Linked DNA regions of Homo sapiens. The protein of the gene in region 2 purifies or fractionates together with the protein of the main gene of each other region. This does not show direct contact. Each region holds a gene or a part of one and is shown on either strand. Other genes may lie near its edges.

Region 1 (7,486 bases), on a different chromosome or scaffold from region 2:
AGGCCTGTTCACGCTTGAACGTCATGGCCCTGCTATGGAATAGGCAAGGCAGTCTCTTCATCCCCTTCGAGCCAAAGAGTAAACAGATAACTTGCCAGGTCCCACTGGGTTTTATTGGTTTGTTGTTTGAGACAGGGCCTCTCTCTGTCACCCAGGCTCAAGTGCAGTGGTGCAACCATGACTCACTGCAACCTCTGCCTCCCAGGCTCGAGTGATCCTCCCCCTTCAACCTCCGGAGTAGCTGGGACTACAGGCATGCGCCACCATACCTGGTTAATTGTTTAAAATGTTTCATAGAGACAGGGTTTCCCTATATTGCCCAGGCTGATCTCGAACTCCTGGGCTCAAGCGATCCTCCTGCTGCAGCCTCCCAAAGTGCTGGCAAGACTTTACAGGTGTGAGCCACCATGCCTGGCTCAGGTGCCACAGTTAATAAAAGGTGGGGAAAGTTAAGTGGAGCAGTAATGGAAGTGCAGGTTCTCCTCCAGCTTGACGTGCCCTTACTTAGGGGTTGTCTCTTACCTGGCAGGGCTGGGAGGAGATGGGTAGTTCCTGAAAGGCCGATGGAGAAAACTGGGGAGTAGGTTACTACTCCCGTGACTGCCCAGGCCTCTACCCAGACCTGTTTCCACCTGTGCACTGAAATGGATAGGTAGCCACATGTGAGAGGTGAAGAGTCCCGGCCCCAGACTAGAACCCGAGCCAGGTCCCGAGCTGGCTGCTTCCTCCACTCAACATCCCCAGCTCAGTACTCTCAGGCTCTTGGTGCCCCTTGCTTATCTGACATCTGGCCCCTTTGCCTTAACTGGCTGCTTTCAGCCAGCTTCTTAATTCCCTGGAGACAGAAACTGCCTGCCTGCCTTGTGACATCATCTGAGAGTGGGAGCTGGAGCCCAGGTGCCATTTGGCATATAGGGGCTTTCTTCTTCATCTGCAGGTGCCCAGGATCTTTAGCACCTGGCACTGAACACCTACAGGCCTGTGGAATAACAGGGGCCGCCCAGCTGCCTCTCTTAGGGCCTCCATCTGCCCTCTCCTTTATCCCTTTCCTATTCTGTCTTTGGCTTTCAGGCCCTCAGGAGAAAAACTGGCCCACCAAGGAGTCTAAAATCCTAAGACCTTGGATTCAAGCCCAGGGTCCAGGCACGCTTCCCTGGTTCCTCAGGAAGGACCCCAGTGACCTGTTTATTCTCCAGGAGGCAGGGGCTAGGGGTGAAGGCATGGTCCTGCTTTGTAAGATCTGTCTGTCTGCACAGGCAGGCTCTCCCAGGCTTCACTATGGCATCTCACCTTTCCCGGGAAGGCGAAGGAGGGCCCTTTGCTCCAGCTTGGTGTAACCTTGTCCCTGTCCTGCTGCCTTGGGATTAGGCTTGAGGTTGGGAAAAGGGTCTGGGGGATTTTAGGCTTACAAGAAGATCTGGAGGAAACCTAGTGGTCTCTAACACATTGTCAGCAGCCTACCCCCTGGCTTGGCTGGGTGTGCCATGCCCTTGGTTCCAGGGAGACTGATCTGGGACAGTCAAACCCATAGCTCCTCTCCCTACAGTTCCAGAGAGGTGGATCGCATGGTCTCCACGCCCATCGGAGGCCTCAGCTACGTTCAGGGGTGCACCAAAAAGCATCTTAACAGCAAGACTGTGGGCCAGTGCCTGGAGACCACAGCACAGAGGGTCCCAGAACGAGAGGCCTTGGTCGTCCTCCATGAAGACGTCAGGTTGACCTTTGCCCAACTCAAGGAGGAGGTGGGTCCTGACCTGGAAACCTCAAAGTGGGCAAGTACTAGCTCCCAAGCTGCCCTAGCTGGGCAGAACCAGGAGCGTGGGCACCTGGCTATGGGGCAATGTGCTAGGGCTGCCAGAGAACCCCGAGGGATGGCAGGAGAAGGAGACAGGACTGACGCACAAGGGGTCCAATGCCTCCTGTATCAGCAGCTCCTGGGGCACCTGTTAACTATGCAGGCCCCAGGGCAGACCCACTGAGGCTGGGAATCTGCCTGTCCCTTTGTCCCCAGTGACTGTGATGAGAACTCCGGGCTAAGGGCTGAGGGTGGGAGTCTTGGGCCCCTTCCTGCTTGCCCCCTTTCACCCCTTGCGCCCCATCTTTTACACTAGGTGGACAAAGCTGCTTCTGGCCTCCTGAGCATTGGCCTCTGCAAAGGTGACCGGCTGGGCATGTGGGGACCTAACTCCTATGCATGGGTGCTCATGCAGTTGGCCACCGCCCAGGCGGGCATCATTCTGGTGAGGAGGGGCTTGCTTGGCACAGCTTGGTGTGCATGGGGGAACATCACTGAAGGGGAGCCCCTCAGGCCCTCAGCCCCAGGATCAAACCAGTGCCTTGTTGGTTTCAAACCAGGTAGTGCTTTCTCCTGAGGCCCACCAAGGAGGTCTCTGGGAGTTAGGGGGCTGTAGAGTGCTGCCTCTATGCCTCCTGGGGGCGGAGGGGCAGCAGGAGGGACAGGGTCTGCCCAGAATACTGATATGCCCTCGCCGCTTCCACCAGGTGTCTGTGAACCCAGCCTACCAGGCTATGGAACTGGAGTATGTCCTCAAGAAGGTACAGCTCATTTGTCGGGGAGGGGCCCGGCTGGGGCCTGGCACAGGGGGCTGCACAGACTCTGCTTGTCAGAGTCTGACGGTGTGAGCTAGGGCATGCATAGGCGGGTGATACGCAGAGTGTCCTTCCTTAGGCCATGTGTGATTGGAAGGTGGCCCCAACTCCAAGGAGAGCGTGGTTGGTCAGACACAAACCTGGCGTGAGTGTGCAGGGACGGGGGCATGTGTGTGTCAGGGCAGAGGTGTGTGTGTGTGTGTGTGTGTGTGCGTGTGTCCATCCTCATATGTGATGCATATGTGTCTCAGGGTGTGGTGTGTGTGTCTCGGGGCTGGTACATGTGTGCATTTGTCTTGGAGTGTGGTGCCTGTGAGTGTGCTGGAGGTGTGTGTGTCAGAAGCGGGTGCATCTGTATGAGAGCAGCTGATTAGTGAGGACTCCCCCAGAGCTCTAGTCTGGGGCTCCCCGCTGACTGGAGGTGGGGGACTCCCCTTCCACAGGTGGGCTGCAAGGCCCTTGTGTTCCCCAAGCAATTCAAGACCCAGCAATACTACAACGTCCTGAAGCAGATCTGTCCAGAAGTGGAGAATGCCCAGCCAGGGGCCTTGAAGAGTCAGAGGTGGGTGTGTCCCAGGTTAGTGGGTGGTGCATCATTCAGCATCCCTGATTCCTTCACTTCCTACCCACCCTGCCCCCTCCCTCAGCCCCTGTCTCTCACCATCGTCCCCAACCCCAGGCTCCCAGATCTGACCACAGTCATCTCGGTGGATGCCCCTTTGCCGGGGACCCTGCTCCTGGATGAAGTGGTGGCGGCTGGCAGCACACGGCAGCATCTGGACCAGCTCCAATACAACCAGCAGTTCCTGTCCTGCCATGACCCCATCAACATCCAGTTCACCTCGGTAGGGCAGAGGTCTCCAGGCCCCAAGCCCAGATGGACACATGCCCCCTGTCCCTGTGACACTTCCGCGGGGATGGGGAGACAGCAGAGGAGAGCATGCCTTCTTTACTGAGACTGGCCTTCAGCTGTCCTCTCTGCCCTGGAAAATATCAGCACCTGGTGTCCTTGTCACATTTCCTCCCCTAGCCCCCCGCCCTCTCCACTCCAGCCCTCTTGTTCCCGGTGCAGTGGCAGATTCACTGAACCAACACAGGTTGGAACTGCTACAGGCTGCCCCTCATTTAGCTGATGAGGAATCAGAGACGCAGAAGAGAGAATTTGCCCAAGCCAGCTTGTGGGTGGCAGAGTTCTCTGGGCCATGTAAGTGGCATGAGAACGGAGACCTTATCTTCTGCATTGCTGGACCCTGACACCTGGTATCGTGGTAGACCTTTTGCAAATATACTGAACAGATGGATCTGGGGCAACAATCCCTGTCTCCTGATTCCCGGTCCCGTGCTCTTCAAGGCAGTGGCCCAGGGTGGGAAGGAGATGAGAAGGAGGCCAAGCCATGCCCTGTTTGCCTTGTCAGGGGACAACAGGCAGCCCCAAGGGGGCCACCCTCTCCCACTACAACATTGTCAACAACTCCAACATTTTAGGAGAGCGCCTGAAACTGCATGAGAAGGTGAGGCGGCACTAGGCCCAGGGCAAGGCTGCAGGAGGGGTGGCTCAGGCAGGGGTGGGGGGCTGGCTGGGCTCCCCTTGCCAGCTAGAGAGGAACTGGCGTCTGGCTCCAAGACAGACCCAGCCTCCTGTCTCCATCACCAGACACCAGAGCAGTTGCGGATGATCCTGCCCAACCCCCTGTACCATTGCCTGGGTTCCGTGGCAGGCACAATGATGTGTCTGATGTACGGTGCCACCCTCATCCTGGCCTCTCCCATCTTCAATGGCAAGAAGGCACTGGAGGCCATCAGCAGAGAGAGGTGGGCACTGGTGGACAGGCTACTTGTGGGCTGATAAAACCCTCTTCTTCCTCACTCCTGGGCCCTGACACCTTTCCAAGCTGCCTCCTCCCTCCAGCCAGGAGACTGAGGATGGGGACAGTGGAGGACCCCCAGGAGAGGACCAGTTCCTGCCTCAGGAGCTTCTCCTGCCTATTCCCTTTGCTGCAGTTTCATGGCGGGGTGGGTGAGAACAGGGAGTTCCCTTCCACTTCCAAGCCTAATTTCGAGACCTCCTCCTATACAGAGGCACCTTCCTGTATGGTACCCCCACGATGTTCGTGGACATTCTGAACCAGCCAGACTTCTCCAGTTATGACATCTCGACCATGTGTGGAGGTGGGGTGGGGCCAAGGGCAGCCAGGCTTGGGGAGGGGGCTGCTTCCCCCACAGGAATGGCCCGGGTGAGTTAGCTATGCTCCCAGTCTTTTATATAGGGGGCAAGAAGGACGCTGTAAAAATGTGGGTGGGAGGGAGGGAGATCCCCAGTGTCCCTGGACACCAGCCCAGGGCCAGCTGCCAGGTGTAGGAAAGGCTCGGGGTCAGAGGAGAAAAGGGAATGTTCCTCCCCTGAATGAGCTGTAGGTGAAAGGACTCCACTGGGCCTGGAGAATTGGGGAGCTGTGTCAGCCCTCTCTCTGATTCAGGTGTCATTGCTGGGTCCCCTGCACCTCCAGAGTTGATCCGAGCCATCATCAACAAGATAAATATGAAGGACCTGGTGGTGAGTGGTGACTGCGGCCCGGGCTGTGGGCAGGCCAGGCCTGGGATGACAGCAGATGGACAGACATGGGGATGAGTCCAGGCCAGATGTTCAAAGGAGACCCTCTCAGCCAGCCCTCCTTCCAGAAAGCAGATGTGAGAAAAGATAGTCTGACCTCATCAGCACCTGGTGGGTGAAGGAGATAGGTGGCAGGGGAGTAAATATAATACATACATACATTTATATTTATAGAAATCTCAGGAAGAAATTGCAGCATGGGAAGATGGACAGCAAAGCACCGATGTCCTGCTAGAACGTCCTGGCAGGTGGGGGCTGGCAGAGTTGGGGCATGGGCTTTAAAACCCTTTCTGGAAGCAAGGGGTGGGGCAAGGATCTGATGATTGTTTCCACGTGGCAGGGAAAGAGGAACAGAGGAAGGATGATCCTGGGAGGGTGGCCATCCTGATGACCAACCTGTTGTGGTTCTGATTGACTTGGGGGGGGGGTCTCAGCAACAGCTTCTCCAAGAGGAGCTGGAGGGTGGGGAAGGCATGAAGGCTGGGGAGAGGCTCAGCCTTCCTTCTCCCCAGGACACTGCTGGGTGGAGCTGGGTTGGTAGTGGAGTGCCCGAGGCCCCCTGCCAGGACGTGTCTAGGTGTAGGCAGCTCTGTGCATCAGCAGAGGCTGTGGGGAGAAGGTATGGGTGGAGGTGAGAAGGTCAGTAGTCTCTCCGGTGGAAGGCAGAGGCCAGTCACCAGGACTGGCTGGGTCAGAACCTGCAAAGAGGCAAAGATCGATGTCAGTACTCCAACAACACAGATGATGCTTGAAGAAAATGGTGGAAGTCCTGGGCAGGACCTTTTCCTCCCTTCAACAGGGGACCCAGTCGTCCCCTCCTCTCTCTGTAAAAATGGAGGGTCTGCCTGACCCTCCAGGGCCAGGGGGTATCCTGGAAGATACCAGCTCACTTGCTGGAATCACCAAAGAGGGACATAGGGGACCTGTTTACCTGGCCCCCACCTGTTTAATGGCGGCCAGCTTTCTTGGACCTCTTGGTGGGGAACTTGCAGCTGCGGAAGGCGTCCGTGTCACGGATGTGCTGGCCCTTGAACTTGGCAGGTGAGGCACAGGTGGCATCTGGGCGGGAGGCCTTGGCTTCCAGCCACCTGGAGAGACAGAAACTTGCTGGGGCTGGGGAAGAAGGTGGGAGTGCTGGGGGGAAGGGCAGTGAACTATGGGGCCAGGATTGACTTGGCCACAGGATAGTCTGAAGCTGTCATCTTCATTTTACAAATGGGGAAACTGAGGCTCCCAGGGTCCCATGCTTATTAGGTAGCAGATCTAGGATGCATGTCCAACATGTCTTAGTGCAGGGCTAATGTGCCTCTATCACATGAGGGTGGGCTCTGGGAGTGACATGGAAGTGTTCTTACCGCCGAAGGCCCCGGAGCTGGCAGGTACACTTCCAGGGGTTATTGGTAAGGGCGAGGGTCTCCAGGCTGTCGAAGGGGAAGTTGGAGGGTAGCTGGTTCAAGCGGTTGTTCTCCAAATGGACGTGTTTCAGCGTGGTTACACCCAGGAAGGCACCATCTGAGAACTGGGGAGCAAGGTGGGAGCAAGGTGGGAGCAAGGTGGTCATGAGTGAATGAGTAAGCACCCGAGTGCCAGAGGGGCAGGATCCTTCCCTGAACCTGAGCCATAGCACTTTGAGGAGTTTCCCAGTTTTCAAAGCAGTATGACCAAGTGATCTCAGATAATCCAATCTACACAACCCCCTTTGAGACAGATGGTGTTATTTTCTTTTTTTTTTTTTTTTCCTTTTTTTTTTTTTGAGATGGAGTCTCACTGTGTTGCCCAGGCTGGAGCACAGTGGCACGATCTCAGCTCACTGCAAGCTCCGCCTCCCGGGTTCACGCCATTCTCCGGCCTCAGCCTCCTGAGTAGCTGGGACTACAAGTGCCCGCCACCATGCCCGGCTAATTTTTTTGTATTTTTTTAGTAGAGACGCAGTTTCACCATGTTAGCCAGGATGGTCTCGATCTCCTGACCTCGTGATCTACCCGCCTCAGCCTCCCAAAGTGCTGGGATTACAGGCGTGAGCCACCACGCCCAGCCAGGTGGTGTTATTTTCAATATGCAAATGGGGAAACGGAAAAAGCGCAGTCCTTTGCCCTGGGTCACAGCAGTGGGTAAACAGTAGCCACAGGACCACACCCAGCTCCTCTTCCCCTGGCACCACAATCCCTGCACAAACACTGGGACTGTGGGGCTGCCAGAGTTTGGCCCCAGCAATCCAAACTGGTACACGGTGAACTTGGTCTGTGCTTGGTGGAGTGGGCAGTG
Region 2 (7,975 bases):
GCCATTAAGAGCCATGATTTGCAACGTTTCTTAAGAGTTCCCCACATTCGTCTCTTGGATTTCTTCCCAAGCTGCTGACATTCCTTCTAAAACTTTTAAAGCCGTATGCAGCAAATATCAACTATGTCAAGAACAAAACCTGGCATCAATTGTAAGACTCATTCCTATTTCAGAGATTTTAAAGATGTGTGTCTTAGAATACCTGAAACAACGGTAAGCCAGACCTGAGGTTTCTTAGAACATTATTACGGCTTTAAAACTTAGAAGAAAAAAAGTCCAGAATCCAGAACTTTCCCTCTGACTTTTTACATGGCACCAACCTGTGTCCATCTGCAGAGGTTTCTAACGTGATTTGGCAGCCTCACATCTGTCAGGCCCATGTGAGGTGGGAGCAGGATGACAGCTGCAAGTCAAGCACCGGAGCAAGACCTGCTGCCAAGCACTCTGATTTTAATCCTGTCAGTTAGTGCTTGGCTCCATCCGAAATGTATTCAGGGCTGTGACAGGGTTCTCAGACCCAGTGCCTCCTTTTTACAACAAGGATTTCGGCCTGACAGGGTGGCTCACGCCTGTAATCCCAGCACTTTGGGAGGCCGAGGTGGGTGGGTCACATGGTGGAGAGATTGAGACCATCCTGGCCAACATGGTGAGACCCGTCTCTACTAAAAATACAAAAATTAGCCGGGCGTGGTTGTGGGTGCCTGTAATACCAGCTACTTGGGAGGCTGAGGCAGGAGAATCGCTTGAACCCAGGAGGCGGAGGTTGCAGTGAGCTGAGATTGCACCACTGCACTCCAGCCTGGTGACAAAGTGAGACTCTGTCTCAAAATAAATAAATAATAAAAAATACAATAAGGATTTGGGGACACTGTAGCAGATTGTATCTTCCAAAGATTGCCATAGAATATCTCCTGTCCCACACCATCTTCCAGAACTGTGCTGCTCCTTTATCAAGATTTGGAGCCCAGTCCTCCCACTTCTTGAATTTGTGAGTTTGTGTCTAGTTTGTTACCAATGGAATGTGGGAAAAGTAAAGTTGTGTGACTTATAAGGCTGAGTCAGAAAAGGCCATGCGACTTCCACCTTGCTTGATGGAACATTCATGCTGGAGCCCAGACCTACCATGTAAGCAGTCTCACTGCCATAAGGTGGCCATGCTGTGAGGAAGCCCAAACAGACAACATGGAGAGGCCCTGAGATGATCTGAAGAGAGAGAGACTACTGCTCTCAGTTGAGAGACTACTCAAGCTCCCAGCTACTCGAGCTGTCACCTCCATCTGACTGCAACCATGAATTGCTGTTATTCTAACCCACTAAATTTGGGGATGGTTTGTTATATGACATTGGTAACAGGAAGACTCCCTTTAAGGAGGGGTGTCACTCCCGTGGAAGACAACTGCCTTAGGGACATTAAATCCTCCATGTGACCACCAAGTACACCAACACCAAGGAAAGGCTTCAGGTTCAGAGGCCAGCATTTCTCAGCCACTTACACTCACTGGGGTTCGATTACTCTCTCTCCCTCACCTCTTATCCTCTTCATCACCTCTAAGTCCTGGTATAGAACATTTACATAACTTACCGTCTCTTGGATAAATAAGGAATAACTTCAGTTAGTTCTACAAACTGAAAAAAACTCAAACAGATGATAGTTATTTCCCTATTCGTTATACCCCAGCTTTCTCGTTTGGGTCTCAGCCCCAGCATCAGGGTCTTCAGGGAAGGTAAAATAGTGAAAAGCTACTTCCGGCCCCACTTCACTCCATCCAAGTGTCCAGGGCTGCCAGGCCTCAATGCATAGGCAGAGCTACGTGTTGTGTGGGGCTTGAATCTTTTACAACTCTGGGAACACTTTTTAAGAAAAAGGAAATCAAAATTAGATATGAAAGGAAAGTGATTTAGAATATAAATTCACAACAAATTACAACTTGAAAAAACTAAAAAATCCTACAATCATGAAAAAATCCAGAAAAATAACATAATTAATTACCTAATATGCTCTTATAATATTTTTCTACCTTTTTTTAGTTGCATACTATTTGATTAGTCTTCATATGACAATTTTATGCTATCATTCTACACATGGTGAATTGGAAGTTTATTCAGTTTTCCTCTAGGATGGTAATCAAACTGTGTTTTTAATTACTGATAGTTTAAACAGTTTTTTTTGGTTTCACAACTTGTTATTGGTAACATAATGTAAAGTTTTAAAATTTTTCTCAAATGTTAAAAAAAACTCAAGTTTTTTGTGTTTTTGTTTGTTTTTGTATATGAGCTGTAAGATTAGGAAGAATTTTCCACAGACTAGCTTCTGGCAATATTAATTTCTAGCCTTGTTTCCTTTTTATTATCCTCATAATTCCAGGTTGGATGCCATAGGGCATGCTTCTTTTTTTTTTTTTTTTTTAATTATACTTTAAGTTTTAGGGTACATGTGCACATTGTGCAGGTTAGTTACATATGTATACATGTGCCATGCTGGTGCGCTGCACCCACTAACTCGTCATCTAGCATTAGGTATATCTCCCAATGCTATCCCTCCCCCCTCCCCGCACCCCACCACAGTCCCCAGAGTGTGATATTCCCCTTCCTGTGTCATGCTTCTAACATAACATGGTCTCTGGCCCTGCACCTTTGTGTGAGTTCACCTGGCTTTGTTCTCCCTGCTGTGTGGTGGACATCAGGTGTTTGTGCTATATACTGCCTCCTCCCATACAGATCTTCTTCTCCCCCAGATCTTGATCTGGTGAGACTGGCAATCACAACTCTCCACCCTGCTGGCCACAGAGAGAGCAGAGGGCCCAGTCACACTGCATATTCCAGTCAGCACAGGGGATCCATGCGAGCACACGGCCCAGAGTCAATCAATCAGCCTCTAATCTGATTTTGATCACTTGGGGCTGGGGAAGAGATCTTCCTTCAACTCCACATATTACCCCAAAATGCTTATTGGGATAGGTCCCCACTTACCCATGAGCCCTTTTTTTTTTGTTTTTTTAGATGTAGTAGGGCTGGTTTCTATACACCACAAGAAAAAAATAGTTCCTTTTTATTATTTTTAACTAGTCATTTTATGACCATAGAATACATACATATTGTGCAAGATTCGAACAATATAGAAAGGCATAACAGGAATATTTCAGAGTGTCTGTCCCTGTAATTTATTTCTAGTTTTACTACATGTGGTCCAGAACTTGGTATGTGCTTTATTATTTCTTAGAGGGTGATAGAAGACCAGAGGATTTACTGAGGTTATATATATATATATATACACACTGTAAGTTCAGAGGTTCATGTGCAGAATGTGCAGGTTTGTTACATAGGTATACATGTGCCATGGTGGTTTGCTGCACCCATCAACCTGTCATCTACATTAGGTAGTCCCCCTAATGCTATCCCTCCCCTAGCCCCCCAACCCCCATCAGGCCCCAGTGTGTGATGTTCCCCTGAGGTTTTGTTGTTGTTTGTTTTGAGATAGAGCCTCTCCCTGTCACCCAGGCTAGGGTGCAGTAGCACGATATCGGATCACTGTAACCTTCGCCTCCCAGGTTCAAGCAATTCTCCTGCCTCAGCCTCCTGAGTAGCTGAGATTACAGGTATGCGCCACTATACCCGGCTAGTTTTTTTTTTTTTTTTTTTTTTTTTTTTGTATTTTTAGTAAAGATGGGGTTTCACCATGGTGGCCAGGCTGGTCTCGAACTACTGACCTCAGGTGATCCACATGCCTCGGTGGCATGAGCCATTGTGCTCGGCCTACTGAGGTTTTATAAGGTCCAATAAACGACTAATTTGCTAAATGTTTCCTGACCCTTTAAAATTACATTCACTGCTTGAAGTTACAGAGCTCAATATTTAAGCAAAGTACATTCATTATATTTTTGACTTCTGTGCTGAGTCTGTTTCGAGTATGAAGACAATAGTATCCTTACATCATAAGATTGTTCTAAGGACTCAATATGTTAATACATGAAAAGAGCTTAGAATAGTGCCTGCCACACAGTAGGCATCCCTAAAATGTTAATTGTCATCAGCATCTTCCTTTTTATTCTTTTTCAATACTACATAGGCATACTTACACCTGACATTTTAACTGTCAAACATTGACTGAAAGTATCTTAGCACTCTCTTAATTAATACTATTTTCTTAATTTCTAATAGACTTTGCTGTATATAATCTGAAATTGTTGGTGATTATGTGATTATTGTGGATAATCTCTTGATCAATTAAAGAATTCTAGTGCCTTTGATATTAATATTATGATGATCTCTTACTTTTTTACTGTAATTCCCTGGCATTCTTTCTCATCTTTTCATATTCAGCCAGAATCATATTGTTTTGGTATGTACTTTGAAATAGTAAAATTTCACGAGTCTTACCGTTTTCAGAAATCAAATCCTGCTAATTTCCTCAGCAGAATCACATTTTTATGCTTCTTTCTCCCTCCTCACTACTCACTTTTACTAAAATAAGTGAGAACCTGGGAACTAGCATAAAATCAAATGATTTATTGTTATTTATAAAATATTTATTATGCTCAATATACATATTTCCTTTCAGATGTTAACATATTGTTTGATAGCCATCATTAACACAGTACTTAGCACTAAAATTGTACATAATAGGAGCCACTGCCTCACAGCCAGCCCACAAATTTCCTACAGTTTTCCTGTCGATCAGTTATTTCCTTTGATTCATTCTGTACATTCCTGAAAAACATCTGTATGGTTTTCCAGTAAAACTGCATGAGTAATATCCATGCTTTTGCACTTAAACGTCAATTTAGATAGACATGCAATTTGTGCTGTAGTAAGTGACCTAATTCTCCTACCTTACAAATTTCCTTCACACAAAAAACAGTCTGATGCTTTTTAGTTTTTATCTTTTTGTTCCCCTGAACATAGTGAGTACTGCCCACTTCTGGTGTAGTATCTTGAGTTTAGGGAAGTTTTTGTCCTGTTTCCTCTAAAATGTTGTTCCTGTTACATGTGTTCTGTTAGTATTTTCCTTCTATCACTTAACAAGACTCTGGATTCTCATTGTCTGATCTCTGTATCTATGATATTCTCTTTGGCCATTTTCCTTGTTTTGCACTTTTTCTCTGGGTTCTAGGGGATTTTCTTAAGCCTGGTCTCCATATCAGAGGTAGATTTTCCTGGGGCTGATGATGCTCTTGCTGTTCCTAGGGTAATGTTAAGTTCTCTAACAGAGAGATCCCTCTCCTTAAATTCTTTCTTGGTGTTGCCAGCTGTTCCTGCATGTCTTATCTTTTCTCTCACCTCATTTCAGAGTCCCTGCTCTCCTTAAATGCCCTGAGTAAATACCACTTCTACTCCTTGGAATGAATCTTCCAGAGCATGGTCTTTATCACGTGCATCTGGTGCTCACATCCTCTTCTATTTAACAGACCTATGTTACTTGCTGTTTACTTAAATCAATTAGGGGCAATTCTGCTCTTTTGGTTTCAAACAATTGGGGTCATTCACCTGTTCTCCCTTCCTTGTTTACCTGGCCTTTCCCTACATCCACAACCTAGGACTAGTGCTGGATAATAGGATGTTGTAAACCCATCAGTTCTGTCTTCTAGAGACCTGAAGAAGGTGGGAGGACTGGGACTGTAGGTGAGGGTCTTGGCTGAGTCCAGGAGCTTTCTATACTTGTTGAAAACCCCATCGAGGGGTTGTTATCCTGAGTGGAAAGAGGGAATCCTCTGCCCCCGCATCACCTGGGAATGCCTGTGGTGGGTACATACCCATGGTGAGGGCACAGGCAGCAGCTCCAATCTGCATCTGTGCATCAGGATGAGCAGCACTTTGGTGAAAATGCTAGACACACAAACTCCCTCCATCTGGGAGCTGTTGGTGAGGAGCTTCCTTTTCTTGTTTTATGTCCTTCCCAAAGTCCCTTTGCTATTCTTGCTTTTCGAGTGTAAGAAGGGTTCCTTTGCAAGATTTCATCTCTGCCCAGCTGGCCCCTGTAGACTACCTCTACCCCTAAAGGGAACATAGCCCCTGTAGAGTACCTCTACCCCTAAAGGGAGCCTCATTTGCCCAAGCCAGAAGGGAAGTGGGGAGAAGGCACATGGTTTCTCTTTGTGGGGGCCCTAAGTCCATGGGGGTTTCCCATTTTTCCTTTTTCCTCTGCCCTGCCCATACTCCTCTTCCTCAGAATTGAACATGTTGTAAATAAAATCCCCTACCTGGCTCTTCTATACTTCTCTGATAAGTGCCAAGGTCCAGCATCTTTTACTTTGGTTCAAATTCTGATGCCATCTAATGATTTGTTTACAGACTAAACTTTTTCCTCTAGTTTTGACTCTCTGACACCCGTTTGTGATTCTATTGGAGATAAAGGTTTCAAAAACATTTCTGTGCAACAAACTGAAACTCATATAGGAAACATGCCTTCCCTCTTCTCTTCCCCTCCCCTTGTCTGTTTCACTGGCCGGCTCCCAGCTCTAAGGGTTCCGGTAACTAGGAAAGGAGGAAGTCACTGTTGCCTCAAATGTTCCAGCCCACAGCAGCAGCTTTGCCATATGCCAAGTGACCACAGAGGACTTTGTCTCAGGACAGGGTGGGGCTCAAAGTGTTTTTATTCTGCACCAGCAGAAAAGTGCAATGCTGAGAAGTGGGAACATCTTGCTGATTATGCTGAGAAAGGCAGAAACACGTGTTTGTGGAGAGGCGGCTGGGCCACTCACCTTGCAAGAAACAAAATGTGCTGTGAAGCAGGAAAGTACATAGCATCCTGTACTTTCATACCGCTCAATGCATCTCTGCAAGCTTATCCCAAGTGCTGCCTCATCTGATCTCACCACAGGAATCACAGCAACATTTCAGATAAGGAAAAGGAGGTCAAGGGCTTGGGTCAAAGTCACCACAGCAGTTAGTGGGGGTCAAAGATTGCAATGAGCATTTCTCTTCTTCCTGCCCCAGATGATTGGACTTAACAAGGCCAAGGAAAGCTTAAGTGGGTCATCATCCCTGGCTTTCCTTAAACATCAGCAGGGTGGGAATGGCTAACAGGAGGAGAAACACAGAGTGTGAACTTGTATCACCCCCCACCTGCCTACCCAGAGACTGTCTATGTGAGTGAGATGAACACAAACCCCAGTACAGTGAAACACTTTTATGAAGGCTGCCTGAGAGGTAATCTACTGACTTGGAGAGTATGTTCAAGGGATCATATAGGAAAGTCATGGGCTCTTCCCCACGCAACCATCTCCAGAGACCTAAATAAAAAGCAAATTTAATACGAATAAGTGGACAGATGAGCTGCCCAGTAGGCAGGCACTGAGAGACTGATCAGTGGGATACTCAAGCAGAGTGAGACAGAGCGGAACCTTCCAAGTGGTATTAGTGTTGACCTGGATTACATCCCATAATGAGTTCTGGATCCAGAATTACCTGAGGGAAGGGGTCTGTTAGCAGTGCCATAAAGGGTCAGTGGCTCTGATCTCCCAGGCGTCAGGGTCCCTTGCAGAGATGACTGAGAACCAAGTGCACAAAGCACAGATGAAGCTGCTACAGGCTGGAACCCCAGGGGCCACTGGAATGTCCATTTCCTGCAGCCTGCCTATACTGAGGTTTAATCTAGATAACGTTTGACAAAAGGGTCAGGGTAAGATTAGGAGATGATAATTAACCTCTAGGAGTCTACCTCATTGTACAGCTGCTCCCCCACTGGGTACTCCCATTCTTCTAAGACCAAGGGCTGCCAGTGGGACCCACACTGCTCTGCATCAAGCTTCCAGACCACTGCCCACCCTCCCTTCCTCAAAAGGCTCTCACCTGGGAGATGCTATCCTGTCATGCCTGCTTTCCCCTCTGGCAGGTGCCACTGGCCTTGTGGCCACTCCTCTTGTTCACCAAGGATGCTGACTCCTAGGTCACACCATTCTCCTCAACATCTGTCGGTTTCTTGCTTCAGCACCCATGTGGAGGCTCACCCTGCCCTCCAGCCTCGCCAACCCTAGAT
Region 3 (8,107 bases), on a different chromosome or scaffold from region 2:
GAATGTATTTTTGTCTCATTCATTTAAGTGATAATTCTGTAGATATGAAACGCGAGCATGTTTTCTTGAACCCTGTGGAGCCACCGTCCCAGCGTCTCCTCTGCTGGCCCCTGGTTCTTCTGTAGTCTGGGCTGCAGGTTTTCCCCGGAAAGATTTCTATTTTTTTTCTTTTAACTGTGTGTCATCCCAGCAAATGGGGCTATGCTAATCTTCTCTGTATCGTTCCAATTTTAGGATATGTACTGAAGATTTTTAAAAGACTGTTTTTCACCGTCATCATTATGTACTGCATTATATATGGCATTGAGGAACCTAAGGGTACATTTAAAAATTTATTCCATTTGACGTTCTAGGCCCTTTTAATCTGAGATCTTAAATCTTTCTCTAATGCACAAATCTTCAGAAAACCCAGTTATTTCAACCTTTCCCCCTCCTCTTGCTGTTTCTTTCCTCGTAGAGCCCCCATGGTGTGGGTGCTAACACTTACATTTTCTGTTTCCTTTTTATCTTTTCCCAAAGCCTCCCGGGAGACGTCTCAGACCTGATCTTACAGCTCCGCTTTTAACATTTCTCTTTTTATGTTTTATACACATCATATTCCTAGTTGGTTTTCCTTTATACCTATAATTCTGGCGTCATGTTACCGATATCCCTCCTTGCCTCTTTAAGAGATTACAATTTTAAAAAATTAATAGATCAAAGAGAACAAACATGAATTCTTCTCTGCCTGGTACAGATTCTCCGGTTTGTCTCTCCCAATGCTTTTGATCTCAGATACCCCACCTTCCCTTGTGAATACGTCCCCTCAACATGGATAACAGCGCTGTGCATGCACAAATGTGTGAGTACGTGTGTGTATGGGTGTGTGTTTGCAAATGCATGCCTCGTGTGTGTGTGTACGGATTTGGGGAGGAGACAGTCCATTGTCATGTAATGGTTTCTTGTGGGCTACTGTCACACACGCGTGCATGCACACGCACACACGTGCACAGTGCACGCAGACACGCACACAAACGTGCACGCACACGCACGCACACACGTGCATGCAGACACGCACACACGCAGATACGTGCATGCACACACACGCACACACATGCATGCAGACACGCACACACATGCACGCAGACACACGCACACACGTGCACACACAGGGTGGCCTGAGTCGTCCCCAGGGTTTCTCCGTTTCTGTGTTCAGATCCTGGATTTGTCGGGCTCCCTCCCCAGTCCTGGCGTCTCACCAGGCAGGAGCCTCTGTTAGTGGCCATCTTGTTTCCAGGAGTCTGTGGGGACTCTTCTGGAAATGCGGATGTCTGAACGCCCATTTCACCTGGGCCTGCAGATCTGTTGGCGTAAAATGGGTCAGAGGGCTCTGGTTTTCAGCCTTGTCTTCATCCATGGTTTTGTCCTCTCTGCCCCAGCACTGTGGTGGCCCTCTCGTTTCTCTGGCCAGGTGCACTTCACTGAGCCCTCCGGGACGTGGGGGCCACCTTCCCCACCCCGTGGCTGGCCCAGGGCTGGCCCCACTCTCCCTTTCCCCTCTTGCCTCAGGAAGGAGCCAGAAAAGGTTCTACTCTTGCAGCTCAGCTTGGCCGTGAGACCGACGTCTGGCCACAGGGATGTAGCTGACAGTGGCAAGGACACCTTTGGAATGTGCCCTTCAAGGTTCCGAGCCTGCCCTTCTCCCTCCTCTTCTTCCTGTTGTTGGAATGTGACCCGATTCCGGGCCAGCCTTTCTCCTCCCTCCTCTTCTTCCTGTTGTTGGAATATGACCCAACAGTGGAAACAAGGGCAGTGTCCTGTGTGGAGGATGCAGAGCCAGGTGAGGGAAAGAGGCCTCCCCGTGCCTCTGAGAATGTCACTTCCACACTGCGAGAGCCACTCTTATCCTGTTATTATTGTTACTTGAAGCCACATCGAGCCCTACACGGCGCGTTTAGTCACTCTGTGGGAGGTGGTAACGTGTTCAGCTAAAACGTCTGTTTTCTGGACAAGGAGAGTTGCAGTCTTTGTCCTTAGGTACAAGCAGAAGTCTCCAAGTGGGACTCCTGTTAACACTGGTGCTCTTCACCCAGAGGACTCCCGCCCCTTCCGCCAAGTGAGGTGTAGCTCCTGGAGCAGCAGCAGTCATCTTGTGATGAAGGGCAGCTACATGCCAAGGACAGCCAAACAGGCTGGGATCCGCCATCTTGTGGTGAAGGGCTGGGATCCGCCATCTTGTGGTGAAGGGCTGGGATCCGCCATCTTGTGGTGAAGGGCTGGGATCCGCCATCTTGTGGTGAAGGGTGGGGATCCGCCATCTTGTGATGAAGGGCTGGGATCCGCCATCTTGTGATGAAGGGTGGGGATCCGCTATCTTGTGATGAAGGGCTGGGATCTGCCACCTTCTGATGAAGGGCAGCTACATGCCAAGGATGGCCAAACAGCCTGGGGTCTGCCATCTTGTGATAAAGGGCTGAGATCCGCCATCCTGTGATGAAGGGCAGCTACATGCCAAGGACGGCCAAACAGGCTGGGATCTGCCATCTTGTGATGAAGGGCTGGGATCTGCCATCTTGTGATGAAGGGCTGGGATCCGCCATCTTGTGATGAAGGGCAGGGATCCGCTATCTTGTGATGAAGGGCTGGGATCTGCCATCTTCTGATGAAGGGCAGCTACATGCCAAGGACGGCCAAACAGCCCAGGATTCCCTCAATGTCCATTCCTGCCCACAGGACTTTACGTGTGATGGCAAAAACTGATTTAGGGAAGCCAATGGCAATCAGGTTTTAATTAAATACAGGCAAACACAGTACTAATGAATGCACACTGCTTCAGGGTTTATTTTCTACTATTTAAAATTGTTTGAGTTGGAATCTTCCCTAAAAACTGTGTTTAAGGGCCGGTGAGGTGACTCACACCTGTAATCCCACCACTTTGGGAGGCCAAGGAGGGTGGATCGTTTGAGCTCAGAAGTTCAAGACCAGCCTGGGTAACACGGCAACACCCTGTCTCTATTTAAAAAAATACAAAAAACATTAGCCAAGCGTGGTGGCGCACGCCTGTGGTTCCTGCTACTCAGAAGACCGGAGCAGGAGGACCACTTGAGCCCAGGGTGGCACAGAGGTTGCATTGAGCCGAGATCATGCCACTGTACTCCAGCCTGGGTGACAGAGCAAGACCTTGTCTCAAAAAACAAGAAAACAAAACAAAGCACTGTATTTACAGCTATAAATTGCCCTCTAGGTACCACTGCAGCTGCAGCACAGAGATTCTGACGTGGCGCTGCATCCATCATTATTTGGTTACAAGTATCTTCACGTTTCCTTTTTTCTCTTTAACCCATGAATTACTGTGGAGTCATGGGTGTGTCTTTTAGCTTCTAGAGGCATTCTTTAGCTTGTTATCATTGGTTGTTTTTCCAGTTTCATCAGTGAGTGAGTGAGTTCTGAACAGCAGGATCCTTTGGAATGTAAGGTTTCTTATGGCCCAGTTCATGGTTAGTGTGTGGATATTCCACACATGAGAGGAGAGTGTTTCTCCACTGGGCAAGGAGTTCTGTACTTACCATCAGATCACGATGGGGGGCTGTATTATGACATCGTCTCTGTGCTGGGGCTCAAGTCCAAATGTTCCACGCCCTTCCCCAAGAAATGCACTGAATCTACAGACACTGGCTTCCCCCACCATCTGCCCTGGTGTGAGTCCACGTGTCCCAGCTCTCCCGTCCCCACTGCCCTGGTCCTTGGTAGATGAAGAGGCTGGCAGCCATACGTCGCCCCCCAGGTGCAGATGGCATCGGGGCAGGCTCCTCTACAGCTGGGGTTGGGTTTCCTCAGCTTCCATTTCTGACACTGCCTGGGCCAGAGCCATCCTCTGTGGGTGGACACGCCTCACCTGCTGGTCCTGCGGGCACAGCACCCCCTGCCTCCTGCTACACATTCCTCCCAGGCCTGCACGCACCCGCCTTCCTGGGCGCTGTGCCCACCCCTCCCTCTGAGCTCATCACTGAGCCGTTCTTCCCAGCTCCCCACCTTGCAGGTGGCTCTCAGAGGGGCTGTGAAGGCCTGGAGCTTCCAAGGTCGCTCTTGGGGCCTCAGGCAGAGCCACTCGGCACTGCCTGCAGACCTAGGGAGGGCAGGTCAGATACGCATGGCTGCACGCCCCTTACAGTCCACACAGCCACACCACCCTGTGACCCCAGCGTGAGCCCCGTGATTCCATGACCTTCCCACAACCCCCATGACCCCAGCGGCCTGAGCTGAGCGTCAGATCAGCCTTGCGTCACACCACCTCGGTGGCTGGCCTGAGCTGAACATCCCCGGCTGCATGGGCACGGGGGTGACTGGGGGCAGCACCTAAGGCCATGAGCTCTGGGCCAAGACCAAGCACCTCCCTGCATTTCCTCCCGGAGCCCCCACACTGCGTAGGGCTGAAGCTGTGCTGCCTCTGGGGGTGGAGAGGGGACCGAGGCCCACTACAGAGGGGCCTCTGGAGGGGAGAGCTGTGGCCGTAAAGGCAGGAGGGGAGGCATTGCCAGAAACCCAGCGCTCTGGCCAGGAGCGTGAGCCCCGGCTCAGTCCCTGGGGGCTCCTAAAAGGACCCAGAGGGATGCGGTGGAGTCGGGGCTGATGGGAGACGTGCAGGTCGGCTGGGTCTCGGGGAGGCTGCCTTCCTGCAAACAGGAGCCAGGCCGGTTTGGTGCATCCGGAGGCTGCTCTCAGCTCCCTTGCCATCCTCACCTTTGATTCGTACTCAGCTCCACTGCACAGGCTGGGGCGGGTGGGGCCTCAGGGACCAGTCCCTAAGCTGCCTGGGCACCAGCTGGCCGCTGCCTTTGCTGTGCCATTTTAATTGGCCTCCAGCATAAAGTCAGTTTCCCGAAGACAGCCGGACTCCCCTTTTGAGGCTGAGCATCACTGGTGTCACACCAGCGTGGCGGGGGTAGGGCAGCTGAGGGGGTGGTGGGGATTAGAGCCACCCTGGTTCCCCCCGGCCAGGCTGCCTCCTCCTGGCTGCCAATGTGGTCTCAGCCACCCAGTGCCCAGTCCCTTCATCAAATTGGAGAGCCCCAGGAGAGGGGCTCCTTTGGAAGGCTCTGGATGCCCTGTGGGCTCTGGGCTTGATTCTAGCCCCACTCCTGCCTCATGACAAAGCCTGCTCACTCCACTGCTCAAAGAGCCTTCTCAGTTCAGCTGGGGACATGTAATTCCCCGCCCTGGAGAAACCAAGTGAGAGCAACCAAGCTGTTTTGCTGGTCACACAATCTGAAGCAACTCAGCTCCCCAACAGAAGCCAAGTGACCTAGGTGTCCTCCCTGCAGGACGGAGGGGCTGGCTTGGGCTGCTGCTCTCAACAACTGTGTCTGATACCTGCACTGAAGGCTATAACTCTGCCCCAGATGCTGCTTTACCTGCACCTACTTTGGCCACATGCTCTCCTTGTCCCTCAGTGCAAAATCTGTCTCGATGCCACGTGACTTCTTCGACGTCTGATTTGTCCACAGACTTTGGGAATTTTCAGTGGTCTGTTTCTGTTCTCATGCTGCAGTGGGAGCTGGCATTTGGGGCTGCTTCCTGGCCTCAGTCAGGGCTGTGGCTCCTGTGGGTGCAGGCGCTCTCTCCCATCCTGCTGACCCTGCCTATGACTCTCTATTTGGTCTCCAGGTCTGGTCAGTTCCTGGAACAGTTGAATCATAGATGAAGTGTTTGCCCTGAAGCTGTTTTGCGCTCACCTCTTTGGGGTATGCTTTGGTGCACGCAATGCTGCACTGGTGATCTTGGTGGGTTTTCCTTCTGTCAATATCAAGGGTCTCTCTTTGTTCCTTTTTAATACTTTTCATTCTCTCCTCAATGATATGGCTTCCCTCTTCATTTCTGGCACCTTTCTTGCTTAGCTGCCTAAGTGGTAACAGTGGACTAGTTACTGAATATTTGTTTGGAAAGGAAGTAGAAGTTCCCACATCACCCCCACGGGCCACAAGGCCCAGAAGCCCAGGTGTGTGTTCTGAGCTTGCCCCCATGCTGTTTGGGCCACAGTGGGGATAAGGCAGGAAGTCCAGGCTCACACAGCGTCTGTGATGGTTGGGAGAGACCTGGGCAGAGGTGCTGAGGAGCGCACAGGCCAGAAGCCTGCTGAGGGATGACCTTGCTCTGAGACCCTAAGGACCAGGGGCTGATGGTGCCAAGTCTCAAAGCAATGTCCCTGCACAAGGAACTCAGCACAGGGCTGGGTGGGTGAGGGGTGGCCATTCACACACAGGATCTGAACTCCTTCTTGGGCTGGGGACAGAGGGGACGATGAGGCAGGCAGGGACCTGCCTGTGCCCAGATGTGAAGGTGCTGGGGCCGGGGTGGGAGTGCTGTTCTGAGGGAGGAGCCATCGTGCAGGTGACTGGTGGGCCAGCAGTGGAACCATCTGTTGCCTGCGTGAGGCGCAGAGAGAGGCGGGCCCACAGGGCCCTGGCCAGGCTTAGATGAGGCCCAGAGAAAGGGGCGGGGCATGTTGTTGAGCCTGTTTTAGAGCTACTGAGACGGCCACAGGGCACTGCTGCCCTCCTGAACCCGATTCGCCATCAGCCCAGCCCCTCCCCTTCCCCACTGCGGCTGAAGCTGCAGGGCCTCAAGGTGGGGTGCACAGAGCCAGGGTGGGGGACACTCTCCCAGGAAATGACTCCCGCCTCGCTTGGCTGGGTGAGCACTCAGGGGTTTATCTGAACTTGGAAATGCTACAGAGCCAAGAGTATGGGGTGGGCCTTGGCCGAGGCCGCTGCTTCCCTCTCCTTCCACCTGCAGGCTCTTCCTGAGCTTTTCTCCTGGCTTCTCCAGGATGTGGTCGCTCTCGGTGTCCAGACAAACCCAGGGAGGAAGGCTCAGCGTTCCTCGGGGCAGTGCAGAAAATGTCCTGGCAGGAGAGAAGGGAGGACAGATGTGAGAGGCCGAAGACAGCTGGACACCGGCTCAGGGCCAGCGCCTGGCACTGTGGCCACCCTGAGAGCCCGCATCCTGGGTCTCTGCACACTGCGTCCAGCAGGGCCGTGAGTGGGCAGAGCCATGGGCAGGGCCGTAAGTGGGCAGGATTGCGGGCAGGGCCGTGGGTGGGGTCATTCTCTGACGGGTCTGTGGAGGAGAAGCAAGGCTGCTTGTTCTTAGCCCTGGGCTCTGACCTGATTCTTGGGCATCTCAGGCAGCTGCCCTCTTGCCCCAGCCTTACCAGGAGCCCCTGGGTCTCCTGCCTGTGCTCCTCAGCCCTCCTAGCCCCTGCCGAGTCCCCTAGCTCAAAGGTGCCGGCCCCTCATGGGCCCCAGGTCACACACCCTGCGCCACGCTCTGGCCCCTGAAGCTACTTGAGGCCGGAGTTGTGCTGTACCCACCACCTGCTCCTGGGACCCTGTCCCCACACCTGCTGCTGGGACCAGCCCCTCAGCTAAGTTTGCACACAGGGTCCGCCTGCCCAGCGCTTCCTGAGGAAGGCAGAGGTTACCTGGTGCTACTATGGCCCCCACCCTGCCTCTCTCATCGACATACCCAGGGCCTCACAGGCCCCTCCTGGGACTCCTGTGAGCTTTCCCACACTTGGACCAGGTGCCCACTGAGCAAACACCTGAGCTCCACTCTCCCTGCTGCGCTAACCCTGGTCAGGGCCTCCTCCGCCCCAGCACGCAACTCTGCATCCCACGAGGTGCAGCAGACTCCCAGCACGCCAATCCATCTCCGGAACCCCACGTCCTGTGACCCCACGCCCTGTGACCCCACACCCTGTGACCCCACATTCCTGTTGCCCCTACGGGGTCCATAGTTGACCCTACTTTCCCCAGGGCCACCTCGCCTGCCTCTGCTGGGCCTTGTGCTCCCAGCACCCCACCCTGGACAGCATGAGGCCCCACCCGTTGGCCCCTCAGGAGCTCCTCCTTCCTGGATGCCCTCAGCCTTGGCAGATAGATGCAGGCAGCAGGGGCTCACCTGTCACTCCCAGAGGCCCTGGGTGCTAGCCCCCTGCTGCCCAGGGCTGCCCATCTGACCAACAGCTCCAGGCTCCCCTGCGAGGAAAGGGAGGGCATGTGAGGACGGAGCAATGCAGTGGCTTGGGGCCCTGTTCTGACGGGGACAGAGGGTGTCAGGGCCCCTCCCT
Region 4 (7,486 bases), on a different chromosome or scaffold from region 2:
ACAGCGGTTTCCAGGCCAGAGGCAGGACTGGTGATGACAGGCTGGCTGCCTGGTAATTACGGCAGCGTCCAGCCTGCTGGCTTCCTGCCTGCTTTACAAGCTAGGAGGCTGGGGACGCAGGGCCGGGGACGGGCAGGAAGTCCCGAGGCTGCAGAGGTCCTGTTCAGGTGTGTGTGAGTGGGCGAAGCCCTGCCGGGCCTCACCTGCAGCGTCTTGTCGAACCAGCGGTTGCCGCTGTTGAGCCTGCTGCCGCCCCCATGCAGCATCTGGCCTGCCACGTGGCTGCGGTACACGTCTTCTGAGACCCTGGGCATGGTTGCATCTAGGCACACGGTGAAGATGCTCTTCTGGATGGAGCGCACGGAATCCCGGTTCACCTTGTCTGCAGGTGGCATGGGGCGGGGAGACGCAAAATGGGGTCTCATGGTGTGGGAGAGATGGACCAGCCCCTCCGCAGCCTCCTGCCCTGGGCTCTTCTGACCCATTTGTACCTCTCTGGGATGAGGAGACCCCCCACCTCGCCGGCCCTCCAGGGCATTCACCAAGTGCAGGGTGTGGGTTCAGAGCTTCGAACTCAACAGGACCCTGCAGGCCCACAGCACTCCTCGAGGCAGGGCCCAACACCTGGCCCACTTTAGACACAGGAAACCGAAGCCCAGGGGTCACATGGGAGCTGGTGTGGCAGCCGGGGAACCCACACAGGTGGTCTGACTTTGGGGTCAATGCCCCTGAGCAAGACATGCTTTGGAGGACTGCTGGTACTTGGGGGCACAGGGGGTGTGGAGGCGGGTGGGCTTCTCAGCCAGAGGACTTGGACTCTAATCCTAACTTGCTATTTAGCTGAGAGAAACTACCCTAACCATGAGGTGTCCTCAACTAGGACATGGGGCCCACATTGCCTGCTCCACGTTGAGAGGATGCAGCGGGAAACATGTCTGCCCATGGCTGTGCGGGGCCCAGCATGCCGGGGGAATGTTGGGAAAAGGACTTGTGGGGTGCCTGTATAAACTGGCCATAAAAATAGGGGACAATAAGTTGTGGAAAGCCAGAAGAGGCCACGGAGGAGGAAAGCCTACTAATTGCCATCATGTTCCCATGCTCAGAGCGAGACCCGCTCTCCTATCTGTAAACACTGTGTTCAAGGAGAAAGACACTCCTTTGAAACACTGGGAAGTGGACAGATGTGCAGGCTCCTAGTTAAGCCCGCTCCCACCAGCTACTCTCCGATAAGTTAAAGACACGCTGTTTGAGCACAAAGGAGATTCATTTAAACTGCTATTGCTATAGATTATGCCTCCTATGAGGCACTGCCTCCCTTTCACTGTTTCGCCCTGAACATGTGCTTCTTAGAGCTAAGTGACTGCACTCAATAGTGTGGAGACCAGAACTCTGCGCCTTTTGCAGCCTCCATTTTGCAACTGGCCCCTGGCTCCCACCTTCATGAACTCTTAACCTGTCTCTTCTCATTCCTTTGTTGCCAGCAGACTTCGGGTACCCTACAGGTGGAGTTGAGGCTGGTCCCCAACAGGGGAAGAGGCCTGGGTGTGCAGCCCCAGCACGGCCCCCAAGAGGCACCTTTGATGAGGGTGTTGTATGCCTTGGCCCAGGAGTTGCGGTGGTTGGAGGTGAGGATGCCCACAGGCTCCTTGTTGGTCTGTAGGGATGAGTTCCAGATCTTCTCCAGCTGCACAAAGATCTGATCCGCAGTGAGGGGTGTCCCGTCACTGTGGTACACATCCAGCTCAAAAAACTGTTGGGGCACAGGCAGGTAAGAGGAGGGAGCTGAGTGGGGACCTCAGGCTGAGAGCAGCCACCTCCCCACACCTGCCTCCTCCTGGCCTTGGCCTTGGAGGGGATGGAGTCAGGCCAAGGGTGAGAGGGGGAGGAGGTCCTTGGATCACCCTTCTGGGCTGGGCAGGCCCACGGCCCCTCCTGGCCTCCCTGGGCCCCCAATGGAGAAGCCAGGGGCGCCCATTCCTGGGGCACGTGGGCACGTGTGCTGGGGAACCCCAGTGGGGAAGCCGACTGCGGCCGTCCGGCTGTACTCCTGCAGCAGGGCCGGGGCTTGTAGGTGTGGGTGGGGGCCACCCACCTGGTAGTTGTGTACCACGGTGATGTGCGTGGGAGGCTTCTTGGTCTTGCTGAAGTTGCTGACTGTGTCCTGCTTGGGGCCCGGCACTCGGCAGGAGGACAAGATCTGATAGTACTGGTTCATGCACAGTGGCTTCCCCCCCAGGTACTCCACGGGCAGGGTCTCGCTATGGGGTAGAGGGGCAGTGAGGCCACCACTGGGCAAGTGAATGGGGAGGAGGGCAGGGTAGACAGGGACCTGCTAGGTACTGCTGGGGGCTCACACAGTGTCCCTGCTCCCACTCCCAGATGAGCAGGACACCTCAGGGCTGTGCTGTGGGCAGGGGGCTCGCTTTCTGCCCCAGATGGGCCCTGTTCAGAAGTCATCTAGAAACTCCCTCCTTTCCCCTCTCTGGGCTTCAGTTTGTCACAGGGGAGATGAAGCAGCGAATAAAACTCTGGGGTCCTCTTTAGTTGGGATGGGACAGGGTCACCCACCAAGAGGAGATTCCAGCAGCTGGAGCAGGGCCCAGGGCCCAAGCTGGCATGCCGGGCCAGGGCTGGGGTCAGAGGTGGCTGTGGTAATTAAGCAGGCCTGGGCAGGTGTGGGGCTGGGCAGGGGTGGGGATGCTCACTTGTCAATCATGACCTTGAAATCCAACACACCCTCAATGAGTTTGGCAGCAAATCTGGAAAGATTGATTAGAGATTAGAAGCTGCGTGGACACCCTGAGGGAGGCCCCGGGCTAGGGACACCTGCTTGGGGAGCGGGAGGTCTAGTCTTCCAGCCTCTCTCACCGCTTCCAGAAAGCCTGGGAGCGCAAGGGAGGGGCCTGCGAGTCCCAGCTTGCCAGCCTGTGTGTGCTTCTTCATAACCTCTAGAGGGAGCATGGTCGGGAGGGCTCGGGGAAGTGCTGGTGGCCAAGGGCCTAGTAGGACTTGGGTGCTGGCCCCCTGCAGCTGGAGTGTGGCTTGGTTAGGGGTCAGTGGGCTGGGTCTACCCACAAAGGGCCTGAGCTCCTGAACCTCAGCCTAGAATCTGGAGGGGGTGTCATCTGCTCTGAAGCATCGGTTCTGGAGGCCCCGGGCCCCTGGGGTGGTGTGATGGGAGAGCAGTGGCTCCGGTGTTCCCTCCACTAGGTCCCTTCCCCACTCTGGGCCTCTGTGTCCCCCAGGCCGCCTTCCTCCCAGGGCTGTCTGGCCCATGGCAACCACCCTCAATGCTTGGGGCCGCCCCTGGATCCCACCATGGGGACCAGTGGCTGGAGTTCCTGGGCCTGAACCCCGGCCCTTCCCAGGGTACCCTGGTCCCTTTAAGAGAAGCAGGTGGTGGCAGCCAGTGGCTGGTCCTTGGGCAGGAGATCCTTGTCACTGGTATTTTTATCTCTGGTAGGACTGGAATAGGGGCTGGGGCAGGTGACCTGGCTGAATGTGGAAAAGAGGACTGTGTACAGAGGTCACCCCTGTGGCTAGCTGAGAAGAGTGGAAAGGAGAGGTGAAGTGCTAAAACTGGGGTCGGGGAGAAGCCTCAGGTATGGAGGAGGATGGGGCCTCTGCGAAGATGTGGTGGTTAACAGCCATGAGGCTTTAGAGCTGGAGAGACCCTGCTTCCTGAATGGGGTCTTGGGCAGCTCCCTTCCCTGCTCCGAGCCTCAATTTCCCCATTTGTAAAATAGGGAGGATGCTCCCTACTTCATAAGGCTGCTTGTGGGGCAGAAAGATAAACAGGGTCGGGGCCCCTCCAAGCGGCTGGGCGAAGTGAACTCGAGGGGCCCGGCTGCCTCCTGGCCCCCAAACCCCAGCCACTCACCGGAGCTGACCCTGCAGGTCCACGAAGTCCTGCTTGGGTAGCATCACGCCTGGGCTCGAGTAGATGACCACAGGCTGGCGGTACTGGAGGTAGGCGGTCTTGAGCCACCACTCAGACAGCTGGGAAAAGTGCCAGAGCCTGTCAGGAGGGGTGCATGGGCCCTGGTGCCCCCTGTTCCCCAGGGCTAGGGGACCTGGCTGGCCCCCATGCCCTCTACCTGGCTATGGAGATTCTCAAAGTAAATGCCTAGATCCAGAACCCACCCTCCCTGCCCCACAACTTAAACCCACCAGCCTCTTCCCTTTAGCCCGAGTGATCAGTATTAGCCAGATCAATCCGATGCTGCTGCTAAGAAAGGATGTGAAAGAAAGATCAGGAGGAAACCCGGGGTGTGGGGAGGGGCAGCAAGGTGAACGAATTCTTTTTTTTTTTTTTGAGACAGGGTCTCGCTGTGTCATGCAGGCTGGAGTGCAGTGGCGCAATCTCGGCTCACTGCAAGCTCCGCCTCCTGGGTTCACGCCATTCTCCTGCCTCAGCCTCCTGAGTAAGTGGGACTACAGGCGCCAGCCACCACACCTGGCTATTTTTTTGTATTTTTAGTAGAGACGGGGTTTCACCGTGTTAGCCAGGATGGTCTCGATTTCCTGACCTCATGATCCGCCCGCCTTGGCCTCCCAAAGTGCTGGGATTACAGGCATGAGCCACTGTGCCCGGTCTTTTTTTTTTTTTTTGAGACGGAGTCTCGCTCTGTCCCCCACGCTGGAGTGCAGTGGCATGATCTCGGCTCACTGCAAGCTCCACCTCCTGGGTTCACGCCATTCTCCTGCCTCAGCCTCCTGAGTAGCTGGGACTACAGGCGCCCGCCACTGTGCCCGGCTAATTTTTTTTTTTGTAGTTTTAGTAGAGACGGGGTTTCACCGTGTTAGCCAGGATGGTCTCGATCTCCTGACCTCGTGATCCTCCCGCCTCGGCCTCCCAAAGTGCTGGGATTACAGGCGTGAGCCACCGCGCCCGGCAAGGTGAACAAATTCTCATCTTACACATTCTCTGTCAATGACTGTCATATGTTAAATTAAAATGTATGCCTGAATAGATAGAAAGGAAAAAAGGGAAGGGTCTACAAAAACAAAGTCCAATGAGTGACTTTTTTTTTGAGACAGGGTCTCACTGTCACCCAGGCTAAAGTGCCACGGTGCTATCTCAGCTCACTGCAACCTCCACCTCCTGCATTCAAGCGATTCTCTTGCCTCAGCCTCTTGAGTAGCTGGGACTATAGGTGCGCACCACCATGCCTGGCTCATTTTTGTATTTTTTGCTGCAGACAGGTTTTCACCATGTTGGCCAGGCTGGTCTTGAACTCCTGACCTCAAATGATCCACCTGCCTCAGCTTCCCAAAGTGCTGGGATTCCAGGCGTGAGCCACCGCGTCTGGCCCAATAAGTGAGTTTTTGACCATCCCCAGCAGAGAACTGTCCAAGGAGGCAGGAGACTGGGGTATCAGAGCAGCCTGAGGAACCTGTGGCCTCGGGGAGTAGATACCCACTTTGATCTCAAGGTCAGGGCAATCTTGAGGGGATGCTCCCTGCAAGGATGAATCCTTATGCTAGTGACAAGATGTGGGTGACACATCCTTACTCTCTGCCCTGACGGTCTGTCCTCTCTCTGGGGGGTGGGGGGTCTCTGGGCACCAGCCAGGGATGTGGTATTAAAGGCTCCATGTCTGGCGCTGCGCACACTCCCAGGTGACTGTCACCCTGTGTCCTCTATGCTGACTGCAACACCCACCCTTCCTGCACACAGCCAGTACAGCTTTCTCTGGCCTTCCACCCCCAGAGACCTGGGCCCACCTGCGCCCCCTCAACCCGTGGTGAACAGCAGCAGGATGCGCCTCTTCATCACACGCACTCCCCTGCAGCACTGGGCCACTAGCCTTTGGCAAGGGGTGAGGGGGAGGCAACTTGGCAAGGGGTGAGGGGGAGGCAACTTGTCCCCAAGTTGTACAACAGGTGACTGGTAGCCCCTAAGAACTGGGTCCCTGAGTCAGTCAGACCTTCCTGTGTGGCCGAGGGCTTCCTTGAGAGCTGCTGTGTGGCTCTGGGCTTTTGGGCCACCTCTCTGGGCCTTAGTTTTCCTCATCTGTAGATCAGTGAAGGGCAGACAGGAGCTTCCTTCCCTTGGGGAAACAGCCAGGGGCCTGTACTCCACTAGGGATCCCAGAGCCTCTGGCCAAAGCTTGGGAGACCAGAGGAGACCCCGCAGGTATGGGTACTCCCCCAGCGAGAATCTGCCAGGTGGTGGCGGAGACCCTTCGGTGGCCCCGTGAGTGGAAGGAGGGGTGCCCCCACCCCTTTAACCAGGAGCTTCTGTTTGAAGGAGTCCCAGGCTAAATGAAGTCGGAAAACCACCAGCCCCCAGACGCTCTAAGGACCTTTCGGGGGAAGCATCTTGGTTCTGGAGTCCAAAGTCCTGACCTGACGCGTCTCAGCAAATGTTGACAACTCCCACCTCCTGTGTGCAGCCCCACAGCCTCCGCCAAGCCCCAGGGCTAGAGCTCTACCTCCCCTCCCCATGGCACCCCCTATAACACAGCATTTCCCAGGGCCGGACCCGCTCTGGCTCTCCCACAGGTAGCTTCTCTCTCAGGCAACCCCGACTTGGCAAATTCCACCCGTGCCCCCACCTCATTGGCAAGTGACACTGGCACTGCCTCCAAAACAGTCCTGGACCTAACGACTCTCCCTCTCTCCCATCCGGTGTCAGACCCAGGCTGCCACAGCTCCTTGGGGGTGATGTCACCCCTCCCCCTCGCCTCTGGCTTCCACTCTGCCTCCCTCCCAGCAGCTGGGTCACCTTTTTTTTTTCCCAAGACAGAGTCTTGCTCTGTCGCCCAGGCTGGAGTGCAGTGGCACAATCTTGGCTCACTGCAACCTCCACCTGCCAGGTTCAAGCAATTCTCCTGCCTCAGCCTCCCCAGTATCTGGGATTACAGGTGCGTGCCACTACGCCTGGCTAATTTTTGTATTTTTAGTAGAGACAGGGTTTCATCATGTTGGCCAGGCTGGTCCCGAACTCCTGACCTTGTGATCTGCCCGCCTTGGACTCCCAAAGTGCTGGGATTATAGGTGTGAGTCACTGCATCCAGCTGCCACTTTTTAAATCTGTGTATTGAAGTATGAGATGCAAATAGAAAAGCACACCAAACATTGGTGTAGACATATTTGCCAAACTGGGTACACCTGTGTCATAGATCAGATACAGAACCTGGGCGATCGGTCACTGAGTGACACATATCCCCTGCCTGAGGCTGTCCCACCAAGCACAAGGGCATCTTCTATCTGGTTGTACCTGCCGTGCACCCCACTCCTGCCTCTGTCCTGGAACATGAAACCTTGTCCACAACCTGTATCCTGTTCATTACCTTTCTCTCCTCCCTACTTGAATGTTAGCTCCAAGGAGCTGGTGACTGTGTCCTTCTTGATCACCCAGCACCCTGCCAAGTGCCAGACACAGAGTATGTGCTCACGAAACTCTGGGCAGCAAACGAACGGCCGTGCCAGAGCAGTGGGCACTGGAGAACTGTGCATGTGCAGCCAGCAGCAGGTCACA

Evidence for each region.
Region 1: the proteins of NUDT16 (region 2) and ACSF2 purify together in Homo sapiens (affinity purification with mass spectrometry; one large-scale study listed by BioGRID and IntAct). This does not show direct contact.
Region 3: the proteins of NUDT16 (region 2) and COL20A1 purify together in Homo sapiens (affinity purification with mass spectrometry; one large-scale study listed by BioGRID and IntAct). This does not show direct contact.
Region 4: the proteins of NUDT16 (region 2) and CRAT purify together in Homo sapiens (affinity purification with mass spectrometry; one large-scale study listed by BioGRID and IntAct). This does not show direct contact.

What each region holds. Positions count from the first base shown.
Region 1 is NC_000017.11:50,459,131-50,466,616, forward strand, and holds part of ACSF2 (medium-chain acyl-CoA ligase ACSF2, mitochondrial isoform 2 precursor), read left to right. Parts: intron 1-1,546; coding exon 1,547-1,742; intron 1,743-2,111; coding exon 2,112-2,240; intron 2,241-2,502; coding exon 2,503-2,556; intron 2,557-3,053; coding exon 3,054-3,172; intron 3,173-3,289; coding exon 3,290-3,455; intron 3,456-4,025; coding exon 4,026-4,121; intron 4,122-4,264; coding exon 4,265-4,422; intron 4,423-4,687; coding exon 4,688-4,779; intron 4,780-5,087; coding exon 5,088-5,164; intron 5,165-5,365; exon of another isoform or gene 5,366-5,395; coding exon of another isoform or gene 5,396-5,469; exon of another isoform or gene 5,470-6,167; coding exon of another isoform or gene 6,168-6,309; intron 6,310-6,576; coding exon of another isoform or gene 6,577-6,740; intron 6,741-7,486. Other genes in the region: CHAD (chondroadherin precursor), read right to left, coding at 6,168-6,309, 6,577-6,740. UniProt on the Homo sapiens protein: Acyl-CoA synthases catalyze the initial reaction in fatty acid metabolism, by forming a thioester with CoA. Has some preference toward medium-chain substrates. Plays a role in adipocyte differentiation.
Region 2 is NC_000003.12:131,385,342-131,393,316, reverse strand, and holds the end of NUDT16 (U8 snoRNA-decapping enzyme), read right to left. Parts: 3' UTR 4,487-7,975; downstream 1-4,486. UniProt on the Homo sapiens protein: RNA-binding and decapping enzyme that catalyzes the cleavage of the cap structure of snoRNAs and mRNAs in a metal-dependent manner. Part of the U8 snoRNP complex that is required for the accumulation of mature 5.8S and 28S rRNA.
Region 3 is NC_000020.11:63,329,493-63,337,599, reverse strand, and holds the end of COL20A1 (collagen alpha-1(XX) chain precursor), read right to left. Parts: intron 8,016-8,107; coding exon 7,942-8,015; coding exon of another isoform or gene 7,939-7,941; intron 6,881-7,938; coding exon of another isoform or gene 6,502-6,880; 3' UTR 2,794-6,501; downstream 1-2,793. UniProt on the Homo sapiens protein: Probable collagen protein.
Region 4 is NC_000009.12:129,100,308-129,107,793, forward strand, and holds part of CRAT (carnitine O-acetyltransferase), read right to left. Parts: intron 4,000-7,486; coding exon 3,881-3,999; intron 2,760-3,880; coding exon 2,706-2,759; intron 2,259-2,705; coding exon 2,093-2,258; intron 1,751-2,092; coding exon 1,576-1,750; intron 383-1,575; coding exon 204-382; intron 1-203. UniProt on the Homo sapiens protein: Catalyzes the reversible transfer of acyl groups from carnitine to coenzyme A (CoA) and regulates the acyl-CoA/CoA ratio. Also plays a crucial role in the transport of fatty acids for beta-oxidation.